Regions from separate parts of the Homo sapiens genome. Here region 2 is linked to region 1. Evidence: fine-mapped expression QTL. Tissue or cell type: whole blood. Region 1 holds a variant in brackets; the other region holds the start of a gene. All regions are shown on one strand. Distances are from middle to middle.

Evidence for each region. PIP is the estimated chance that this variant, and not a neighbour inherited with it, causes the effect.
Region 2: it holds the start of NEK9, and the variant in region 1 is fine-mapped to the expression of NEK9 in whole blood (TOPMed, PIP 0.97).

What each region holds. Positions count from the first base shown.
Region 1 is chr14:75,229,089-75,234,284 of GRCh38, reverse strand. No RefSeq gene overlaps it. Among named protein-coding and RNA genes, the nearest start is that of FOS, 47 kb to the left of the region's middle. RefSeq lists a cis regulatory region at 3,987-4,542. The variant A/G (reference allele first, on the strand shown) is at 2,107.
Region 2 is chr14:75,124,993-75,130,111 of GRCh38, reverse strand. NEK9 (NIMA related kinase 9) reads left to right here and starts at 3,064. Exons shown (of 22, transcript NM_033116.6): 1 at 3,064-3,409. The coding sequence starts at 3,191. RefSeq lists enhancers at 3,011-3,140, 3,151-3,200.

The DNA.
Region 1 (5,196 bases):
GACTTTCTCTTTCTTTCTTTTTTTTTTTTCTGTTTTTTTGAGATGGAATCTCTCCCTGTCACCCAGGCTGAAGTGCAGTGGCACAATCTCTGCTCACTGCAACCTCCGCTTCCCGGGTTCAAGCAGTTCTCCTGCCTCAGCCTCCCTAGTAGCTGGGATTACAGGTGCACACCACCATGCCCAGCTAATTTTTGTATTTTTAGTAGAGACAGGGTTTCACCATGTTGGCCATCAGGGTCTCAAACCCCTGACCTCAGATGATCCGCCCACCTCAGCCTCCCAAAAGTGCTGGGATTACAGGCATGAGCCACCGCACCCGGCCCCATCTCTCTTTCCATAATGTTCTTTCCTCTCTGCCCTTTCTCCTACCCACTTGTCTCCCTTCTTGGCAGCCTAGAGAACTTAAATTCATTCTTCAGTACTCAGCTCAAAGGTTACCCACCCTGGCACTTTCCCCTTCCCTTCCCTCTCCCCGTCTCGCACATGGTATGCAGAATTCTAAGATGGCCTCCAAGATTTCTGTCTCCTGGTATACACATCTTACATAATCCCCTCTCCTTGAGTGTTGGCAGCATTTGTGAATATGATGGGATGTCACTCTCTTGATTATGGTAAAAAGGATTTTGCAGATGTAATTAAGGTCCCTAATCAGCTGATTTTGGGTTAATCAAAAGGGAGTTTAGTCTGGCTAGGTCTGTCCTAATTAGGGGAGACCTTCAAAAAGGGACTAGGGGCCAGGCATGATGGCTTATGCCTATAACCCAGCACTTTGGGAGGCAAGAGGACCTCTTGAGCCCAGGGGTTGTAGAACAGCTGAGGCAGCATAGGAAGACCCCCATCTCTACAAAGAAAAAATTGTTTTAATTAGCCAGGCATGGTGGCATATGCCTGTAGTCCCAGCTACTTGGGAGGCTGAGCGGGAGGATGGCCTAAGCCCAGGAGTTCGAGGCTGCAGTGAGCTGTGATCGCATCACTGCACTCCAGTCTGGGTGACAGAGTGAAACCCTGTCTCAAAAATAAATAAATAGCCAGGCACGCTGGCTCATGCCTGTAATCCCAGCACTTTGGGAGGCCGAGGCAGGTGGATCACCTCAGGTCAGGAGTTTGAGACCAGCCTGGCCAACATGGTAAAACCCCATCTCTACTAAAAATACAAAATTAGCTGGGCATGGTGGTACATGCCTGTAATCTCAGCTACTCAGGAGACTGACATGGGAGAATCACTTGAACCCAGGAGGTAGAGATTGGAGCAAGCCAAGATCATACCATTGCACTCCAGCCTGGGCAACAAGAGCAAAACTCTATCTCAAAATAAATAAATAATAAAACCCTGAAAACAAAAAGGGACTAGGATCCTCCCTGAAGTCAAAGAGAATTTCCTGCTAGTCTTGAAGAAGAAAGCTGCCACCTTATGAGAGGATGTGTGAAGTGGGCCATGTGACAAAGACTTGAGGGAAGCCTCTAGTTGATAAGAGTGGCCCCTGGTGACAGCTGCCAAGACAACAAAGGCCTCAATCATACAGATGCAAGAAACTAAATTCTGCCAACAATCACGTGAGCCTGGAAGAGGACCTCAACCTCCAGAAAGAAATGCAACCCGGCAGACACCTTGATTGTCAGCTTGTGAGACCCTGAGCAGAGGACTTGGTTCAGCCATACCTGTACCCCTGACACATGGAAACTGTGAGATAATACATTGTTGTTGCTTTAAGCTGCTAAATTGTAGTAATTTATTACATAGTAGTAGGAAACTAATACCACCACCCCTCCCAAGAATTCTTCATCTTCTGGATTCTGTAGCACATTGCACTCATCAGTATTATAACCCTCCCTACACCATATCATACTTATCCCCCACACATCTGCCACCCTACTGTCACTGCAATCCCAGGCCCAGTCTTCTTTGGGCGTGGTACCAAGTATCTGGGAGCTAATAGGTAGGAAGTAATACATGCTTGTTGAATTAATGTCATGCAAACCCAAAATTGGCTGCTATCTCTACTGCCTGAGTATTTTTAACAGAGGTAATCTTTTCTTTTTCTTTTTCTTTCTTTTCTTTTCTTTTTTTTTAGACCAAGTCTCACTCTGTTGCCCAGGCTGGTGTGC[A/G]GTGGTGTGATCTCAGCTCACTGCAACCTCTGCCTCCTGGGTTCAAGCGATTCTAGTGCCTCAGCCTCCCGAGTAGCTGGGACTACAGGCGGGAGTCACCACGCCCAGCTAATTTTTGTATTTTTAGTAGAGACAGGGTTTTACCATGTTTACCAGGCTGGTCTCGAACTCCTGACCTCAGATGTTCCACCCAGCTTGGCCTCCCAAAGTGCTGGGATTACAGGTGTGAGCCACCGTGCCCGGCCAGAGGTAATCTTTCTGACATCTTGTGTGTGTGTAGGGCTGGCTCAGTTGTCCATAACATTTTGTATGTACATACATAGATTTAATTATTAATTTAATGAATTCTATAGTAGCCCCTAAAAGAAGATATGGTTTCAGATTTCCCCTCTGGTTTTAGGCTATAACATTTCTCTTGAATGTTCTGAGAATATCAGATCCTCCATGACAATGTCTTTAAAATTGTGTCGAGTAACACTAACCCTTAAATGGGCTGTGGGCAGCTGTCAAGTTTCAGGCCTCAACTCTTGGCAAGACATTGTCTCTCTCAGAGGCCTTTAGAATGTCTCCAAAGCACGCTACAGTGTATCTGCTGAACTGTTAGCCAACAGCCTCTGTATCTCATGGGCAGGTATCAGTTTCACTGTTGTAATATCCCCTCAACAACCATTGCAATGGCCAGGACATGTGGCCTGGCCTGTGGTTCAGAAACATAGTCACTGTAGCCATATATGACCCCAGAAACAGGGAACAGGTCTATGAGGTTGATTTGCCTGATTCCTACTCCACCCCCACATATGTGTATGCACACACACAGACACATACATGCATGTGTGCACACACACCCATATACATGCAGGTGTGCACACACACCCATATACACGCATGTGTGCACACACATGCACCCACCTTATTGGCGCCACTGATAATATAAAATACCTGTAACAAGGGACAGAACTTTTTATTTTTCTATGTGTAAGAAGATTTATGGGGTAAAAGCTCCTGAATAGGCCGGGCGCGGTGGCTCGTGTCTGTAATTCCAGCACTTTGGGAGTCTGAGGCAGGTGGATCACAAGCTCAAGAGATCAAGACCATACTAGCCAACATGGTGAAACCCCATGTCTACTAAAAATACAAAACTTCGCTGGGCGTGGTGGCGCACTCCTATAGTCTCAGCCACTAAGGAGGCTGAGGCAAGAGAATTGCTGGAACCCTGGAGGTGGAGGTTGCAGTGAGCCAAGATCACGCCTGGGAAACAGAGCGAGACTCCAGAAAAAAAAAGAAAGAAGAAGAGAGAGAGCGAGAGAAAGGAAGAAAAAAGAAAGGAAGGAAGGAAGGAAGGAAGGAAGGAAGGAAGGAAGGAAGAGAGAGGAGGGATTTCTCAAGGATCAGCGTATCTAAGCCAAAGGCCTTAGGGGAAGGGAGAGAAAGGAAGTGCGGGGCTTGGCAGGCACCTCTCCCTGCCTTTGATTCAGACATTCCTGGTGCTTACTGGGTGTAGACACTTTTCTCTCAGCCTGCTTCCTTGTAGGCAAAATGGGTGTAATAATCGCACTCACCTCATGGGGTTATTTTAAGAATTATATGAAACAATGCATGTTAGGCAGACAATTCAAGGCTCAGCACACAGAAAGCCACCCTTTAGCTATTACCAGTATTTGACCTGTAATCAGGCTCAAAGAGTGTCTTTTAGGGTCTCAAAAATTGGGTGCAAATTGGCTCTCCTCAGTAGTTGGTGGTTGCTCATCAGGTGTTTAGGACGTCTGCAAAGTAAGGAGGTCTGACAGACTCCTCATTGTAAGCTGTTCCCTAGTCACTCTGCCCCCATACTGGGAGTGGCAAGGGAGGCATTTGGCAAGAAACCCAGCAGTGAGACAATAGGTGTGAAAGATGAACAGGAAGTGTGGTTTGGAAGCAAGTGCTAGCACCAAACCACTCATGGAGAACACCTAATCTGGCTGCTGATTGGGCGCTGAGCCATCACTCATATCAAGCTTCAATGGGAAGGTTTGTATCCATGCCCAAACTTACAGCACACGGACCTTCACCAGGGAGATTGACTGAACTGGTGACCAAGGGCTCCCTTGAGACAGCATGGCCTTTGGCCTTCCAGGTTCAAATCCTAGGTCACTCAGTTACTACCTGAGGCACATTATTTAACCTCTTGGAGCCCCATCTGTCTTATCTTTGAAACAGGCATGGCTGTTGGGAGGGTTAGTGGAGATAACATGGAAAGAGCCTAGCACAGGGCCTGGCCCACTCCACAAATGCGAGCTCCCTCCCATTTCCCCTCCCAGGCATCTGAGACACCCCTCCACCCCTTCCTTGTCTCCTCACTGAAGACAGTTAAGCATGCTGTCTGGGGATGACGCCAGTTCTTGATTATTTGATATTGCCACACATCTGGCCTTATCACTGACTATTGACTATAAGACTGGCTGCCCTCTGCTCCACCTGGCTCCTTCCGGCCAGGTGGCTTCTCCTGACGCACTTGGACAACAGTGAAGGGTTGGGCCAGGTCGCCTGGTGGCACCAGGGTTGATGTGAAAGAGTTTTTCCTCAATATTCCAAACTTAAGAGAAGGAATGACTTTAAAAATGCATATGTATCTGCATGCCTGAAACACACACCTTTGAGAAGTTTCCTTCCTTTGAGTACCCAGACTGCAGTTGTTCTGACAAGTGCCCTGCCTGATCCTCCCTCTGAACACTTTCGTAGTTCCCAAGCTTCTCTTCCAGATAATCTAGGGTTCCTGTTTCTCAGCTCATCTCCTAAATGTTGGGGTTCTAGGAGATTCTGCCGTCAGTGCCCCCACCCACCATGCTCTCTGCATGACCTCAACCACAGCCATACCCTGCTGAGTTCCGAATCCATCTGCCTGGCTCTTCTGCCCACACATCTGCATACACAGCTGCCTCCATTTCCACCTGGTGGTTCTTAGACTTAACGTGTACAAAACAGAATGATGGATCTTCTTGACACACACCTAATTCTTCTATATTCTGTGCCCCAGTAAATGGCATGTCCTGCAAACCCAGAAGCATAAGCAAATCTCTTGATCTCCCTCTTCTGTTAATTCTATTTCCTTAG
Region 2 (5,119 bases), 100 kb after region 1:
AAATATTATTTCAACATATAGTTAATATAAAAATGGTTAATGAGATGTTTTGCATTCCATTTTTCATATAAAATCTTGAAAATCCAGTGTGCATTTCAAGCTATACCGCATCTATAGCTTAAAATTAGACTAGCCACAATTCAAGTGTTGAGTAGCTATATGTAGCTAATGGCTACCGTGGCAGACAGTGAAGGGTATAAACTTGGGTTGGTCTTTGGTAGATTCTTTCATCTTGACAGTAACTCTATGGCCCCTGGGAATTTGCCATTCACAAATTGGAAACTAATGCAAAATAGCATTCTAACCATTCACTTGTTAAAGTACAATGTGGAAATAGTTTGGTTTCAACCAAAGGCGCTTTAAAATTTTACACCTTGGCCAGGTGCAGTGGCTCACACCTGTAATCCCAACACTTTAGCAGGCCAATCACTTGAGGTCAGGAGTTCGAGAACCAGCCTGGCCAACATGGCAGAATGCCCTCTCTACTAAAAATACAAAAATTAGCTGGGCATGGTGGCGGACGCTTGTAATCCCAGCTACTCAGGAGACTGAGGCATGAGAATCACTTGAACTTGGGAGGTGGAGGCTGCAGTGTGCTGAGATCATGCCACTGCACTCCATCCTGAGTGACAGAGTGAGACTGTCTCCAAAAAAAAAAAAAAAGTTATACCATTAGAATAAATGTTGACTATTTTTGAACTTATAAATATTCAAAGGTAAGACAATTAGTTTCAGTTATATCCAATATAATGAAGAATTCAGCAGGAATGTCTCTGCTCTATAATAGGACATGTTTCTTCTAGGCTTGTAGTATCTATGCATTATCATTAGAACAATTCAGTTTCAGGCCAACCACGTTATAGAAAACTAGTTCCTCGTTGCAAAGGTGCCAGAAAAAAATGAATTTTTAAGCTTAGGCTGAAATCTATTCAGCCTCTTTGAAAGTCAGCATTCCCAATTTTAAGTAATTGGTTTTTTCCCATTCAACTGAGAAACAATTTATTGAGCATCTTTTCTGTTTAACAGAGTTAATCGAGAATAACAGAATTAAGTTAATAGAATTAACAGATTTAAGCCAAACTAAACTCTGGAGTTTATCTAGATAAACAAGAGGCAATACCTATCCTCAAAGTGCCTTCTAATTAATAGGAGGATGTAGATGGAATGGCCTCTACCTGAAATGATCTCTCTACTTTGTTTAGACTTAACATTTTGTATATTCCTGCACTCACACAGCAAGTTTGGCTTGGACAGATGCCACTCCTAAATGCCTCTCTAGAATCTTGCACTTTAATAGCCCTTATAGAAACTGTTTTAATTGCCTGGTGGTTTTCTGTTACATGTAAGCTCTCTTAAAGTAGGAACTTTTCACAAATCGATATGACACAATGTATTTTTATGTATTTGAGACAGGTTCTCACTCTGTTGCCCAGGCTCGAGTGCAGTGGCATGATCTTGGCTCACCGCAACCTCCGCCTCCCCAGTTCAAGCAATTCTTGTGCCTCAGCGTCCCAAGTAGCTGGGATTACAGGTGTGTGCACGCCTGGCTAATTTTTGTATTTTTAGTGGACACGGGGTTTCACCATGTTGGCCAGGCTGAACTCGAACTCCAGGCTTCAAGTGATCGGCCCTCCCAAAGTGCTGGGATTACAAGTGTGAGCCACCACGCCCGGCTAGGCACATGGCTTTCTCTTAGCCCCATCACATCCTGCTTTTTCAGATTGCTGGGTTCAACTTCCCAGCTCCCTCTTACTAGGTCTGTCACATTAAGCAGGTTACTTAGGTACCTCTGTTTCTGTAAAATGGGAATGTTAGGATAATACATAATACATAATACATAGGATAATACATAATAATGTGAGATAATACGTAAAAAACCTTTAGCATAGTACCCAGAACATAACACTCAATAAATGTTAGCTGTTATGTCTGTGATGTAGACCACATTCTCACAACAAAACAAGCTTGGAGATGAGAAGTTGCCCAAGGTCACATAATTGCCCAAGGTCACATAACTGATGGAACACCTATTGTTCACCGTATTGCTGTTTTCCTACTTGACGGTAGGGAGAACATTATTGCAGATTTCCTGTTCCCAAACAGTGTGTGGCACCAAGTGCTCAAAGAATGTTTCATGATATCATATGGTCAAATATCTGGAAAAACACATAGAATAAATTGAATCTGGAAAAAGAGACGGGGGAGAAGGAAAGTGTCAGGAGAGTTGACTTAAAATATTTTTGGAGTTGTGTAGAAGAGGGAGGGACTTAGGATGGCCCTGGGAGAAAGAACTCGGCCCAGGGACCGAGATGACCGGAGGCAGACATTTAGGCTGTCTATATTATTATTATTTTTTTTTTTTTTGAGACAAAGTCTCGCTCTGTTATCCAGGCTGGAGTGTAGTGCGCGATCTCGGCTCGCTGCAACCTCCTCCTTCCGGGTTCAAGTGATTCACCTGCCTCAGCCTCTGGAGTAGCTGGGATTACAGGTGCCTGCCACCACGCCTGGCTAATTTTTGTATTTTATAGAGACGGGGTTTCACCAGTTGGTCAGGCTGGTCTCAAACGCCTGACCTCAGGTGATCCGCCCGCCTCGGCTTCCTAACATGCTGAGATTACAGGCGTGAGCCACCTTGCCCGGCCATATTATCTTTACTATACTATCTCTCTAAAAAAGAATGCTGTCCAACGTTGGAATGGGGAAGAAGGTGTACACTGGGAATGCTTCCCCAATCACCCTCTTGTCACAGACCTGACGTCAAGATGAGACTGGACGACCTCTGGGCCTCCAAGTTGTATGAGTCCGGACCGGGGAGGCAGAGAAGGGTCAATAGACCCGAGAGGCCGTACCGTCAGTGATGCCCTTGTTCCCGTGGGAGCCCTTCGGTTCCACGCGGTTCCCACCACGCGCCCGCCAACCCTAGCCCGAGGCCTCACTTTGCAGGCCTTCCCCGAAAGCGGGAAGCCTTGGCCGCTAGACTAGCCAAGAGGGTAAGCAAAGGCGGAGGAAACTCAGCCAGGCCGGAAACACAGAGAACTGTTTCCGGGTCGGGGGGCAGGAGCCACCATCGAGCTTCGCGGGGTTGCTGGGCTGACGGATCCGCGGGCCGGCATCTGAAGCGAGCGGGACGCAGCGCGGCCAGGGCCTCCGGGCATACGCAGGCTGGTCCCCAAGGCCCGCGGCCGCCGCCATGTCGGTGCTGGGCGAGTACGAGCGACACTGCGATTCCATCAACTCGGACTTTGGGAGCGAGTCCGGGGGTTGCGGGGACTCGAGTCCGGGGCCTAGCGCCAGTCAGGGGCCGCGAGCCGGCGGCGGCGCGGCGGAGCAGGAGGAACTGCACTACATCCCCATCCGCGTCCTGGGCCGCGGCGCCTTCGGGGAAGCCACGCTGTACCGCCGCACCGAGGTAGCGGCCCTCGGCGCCGGCCGCCCTGTCTGGCGCTGTCGGGTCGCCCCGAGTCCCTCCTTCTCGGCCCCGCTTTCCCAGCGTCGTGAGCTTAGTGCTTTAGGCGCCCACGGGGTATATGTCTTAGGGTCTTCACCACTCTTCCCACTCACCGGCACTAGAAATTGGCTAGATCATTGGTTTGACTAGTCATTTTTGATTGTCCTAAGTCACCTAACCGTCTCTTGAGCTTTAGTTTCCCCATCTGTAAAATGGGCTTACTGATAATACCTTGAAATCATCTTTTTCTTTTTTTTTTAAGATTATCTTGAGAATCAAACGAAGGCTCTGTTCTGTAAATTAAAGTGGTATACGAATGTGAGGTATTGCCAAAACTTCCTTCCTCTCATGCTGTATATATAGTTCTCCAAGGTCGGGGTGAGGAGGAGGGGCATAGCTTCAAAATCCCCACACCCGTGGCAACTCCGTTATTTTTGTCATTATCTTTAAGTTCAGCAGTGATCACTCAGTTGGAAGCTTTTCTTGAAGCTCATTGGGAAGATCTTTGTGTGTTGGTTCTTTATCAGTGTTTATCTTGCAGGGTTTATGCATGGGAAATACTTTGTTGGTATATTCTAAGCCATTAGTTCTTAATTTGGGGGGCACAAGGACCCCTTTGATAACCTAAGCAAAGTAATCTTGCCCCCTCCATCAACACATTTGCACATATGCACATCCTTTGGAGAGATCCATGGATCACGGAATCCCAAGTTAATATATACTAGTGTAAAACCCTGCAGTGATTATTCTACTTCCAAAAACTAACGATACACTAGATTTGATCATAAAATCTTACTTTAGGGTAAACATTTAATGAGAACTTGCTGGGGTTGCTGAAGGTGATTCATCCGTCGGAAATCCATCTGCAGTTCTGGTGTGTGTTCCAAGCCAGCATACTTTTAAGGCTGAAAGATGGAGAAGGAGAGAAGTGGTTGCAAGAGAATATTTTTAAGTGTTCTTTTTTATCCTGATGCCACGTTAATGTATGATGTTAGAGTTAGTTATTCTTAGTAGTCTGTTTTCTTTTTTGCACTCAAAATGAGAAAGAGGAGATAAGGATTGTTATTTCTATATTTTAGTTAGAGAAACTAAAACAGTATACTTAAGTGACTTGCTCACTTAAGTTACAAGTAAATCTTGGACTAGAACTAAAGTCTCACATCTTGCCCATTGCCTTTTTATTATTATCCTGTTGAACTTGATTACTGGGTTGGTTTTGAGTTAAATTTGATTACACTTCCCAAAAATTGCATAGCGTTGTCCATATCACCAAATATTTATTAGATCTGTGAATTTACAAAAGTTCAGAAGCACTCTTTTTCTCTAGAAGCTTATATTTCAGTAGGAAAATAAGTTGACCATTGTTAGTAAACAAATAGCATTAAGTTGCATATGTAGAGATATGAAAAGAATGAACAAATATCATTTCAGTGTATGGGGTCTAAAAATTAAAGACATGGTTACAGTAAAAGCTTCATCAGAGTCTTTTCAAAAACACTGTAAAGGCTTGGCAGAGGCATTCAAAAGGATGGGGAGGGTTACATAGGTGGAGATGCTCCTGGGCTAGGAAGCAGGGTCAGCAAAGAATGAGGCGAGGCACAGTGGCTCATGCCTATAATCCCAACACCTGGGAGGCCAAGGTGGTCGGGTCGCTTGAGGCCAGGAGTTCTA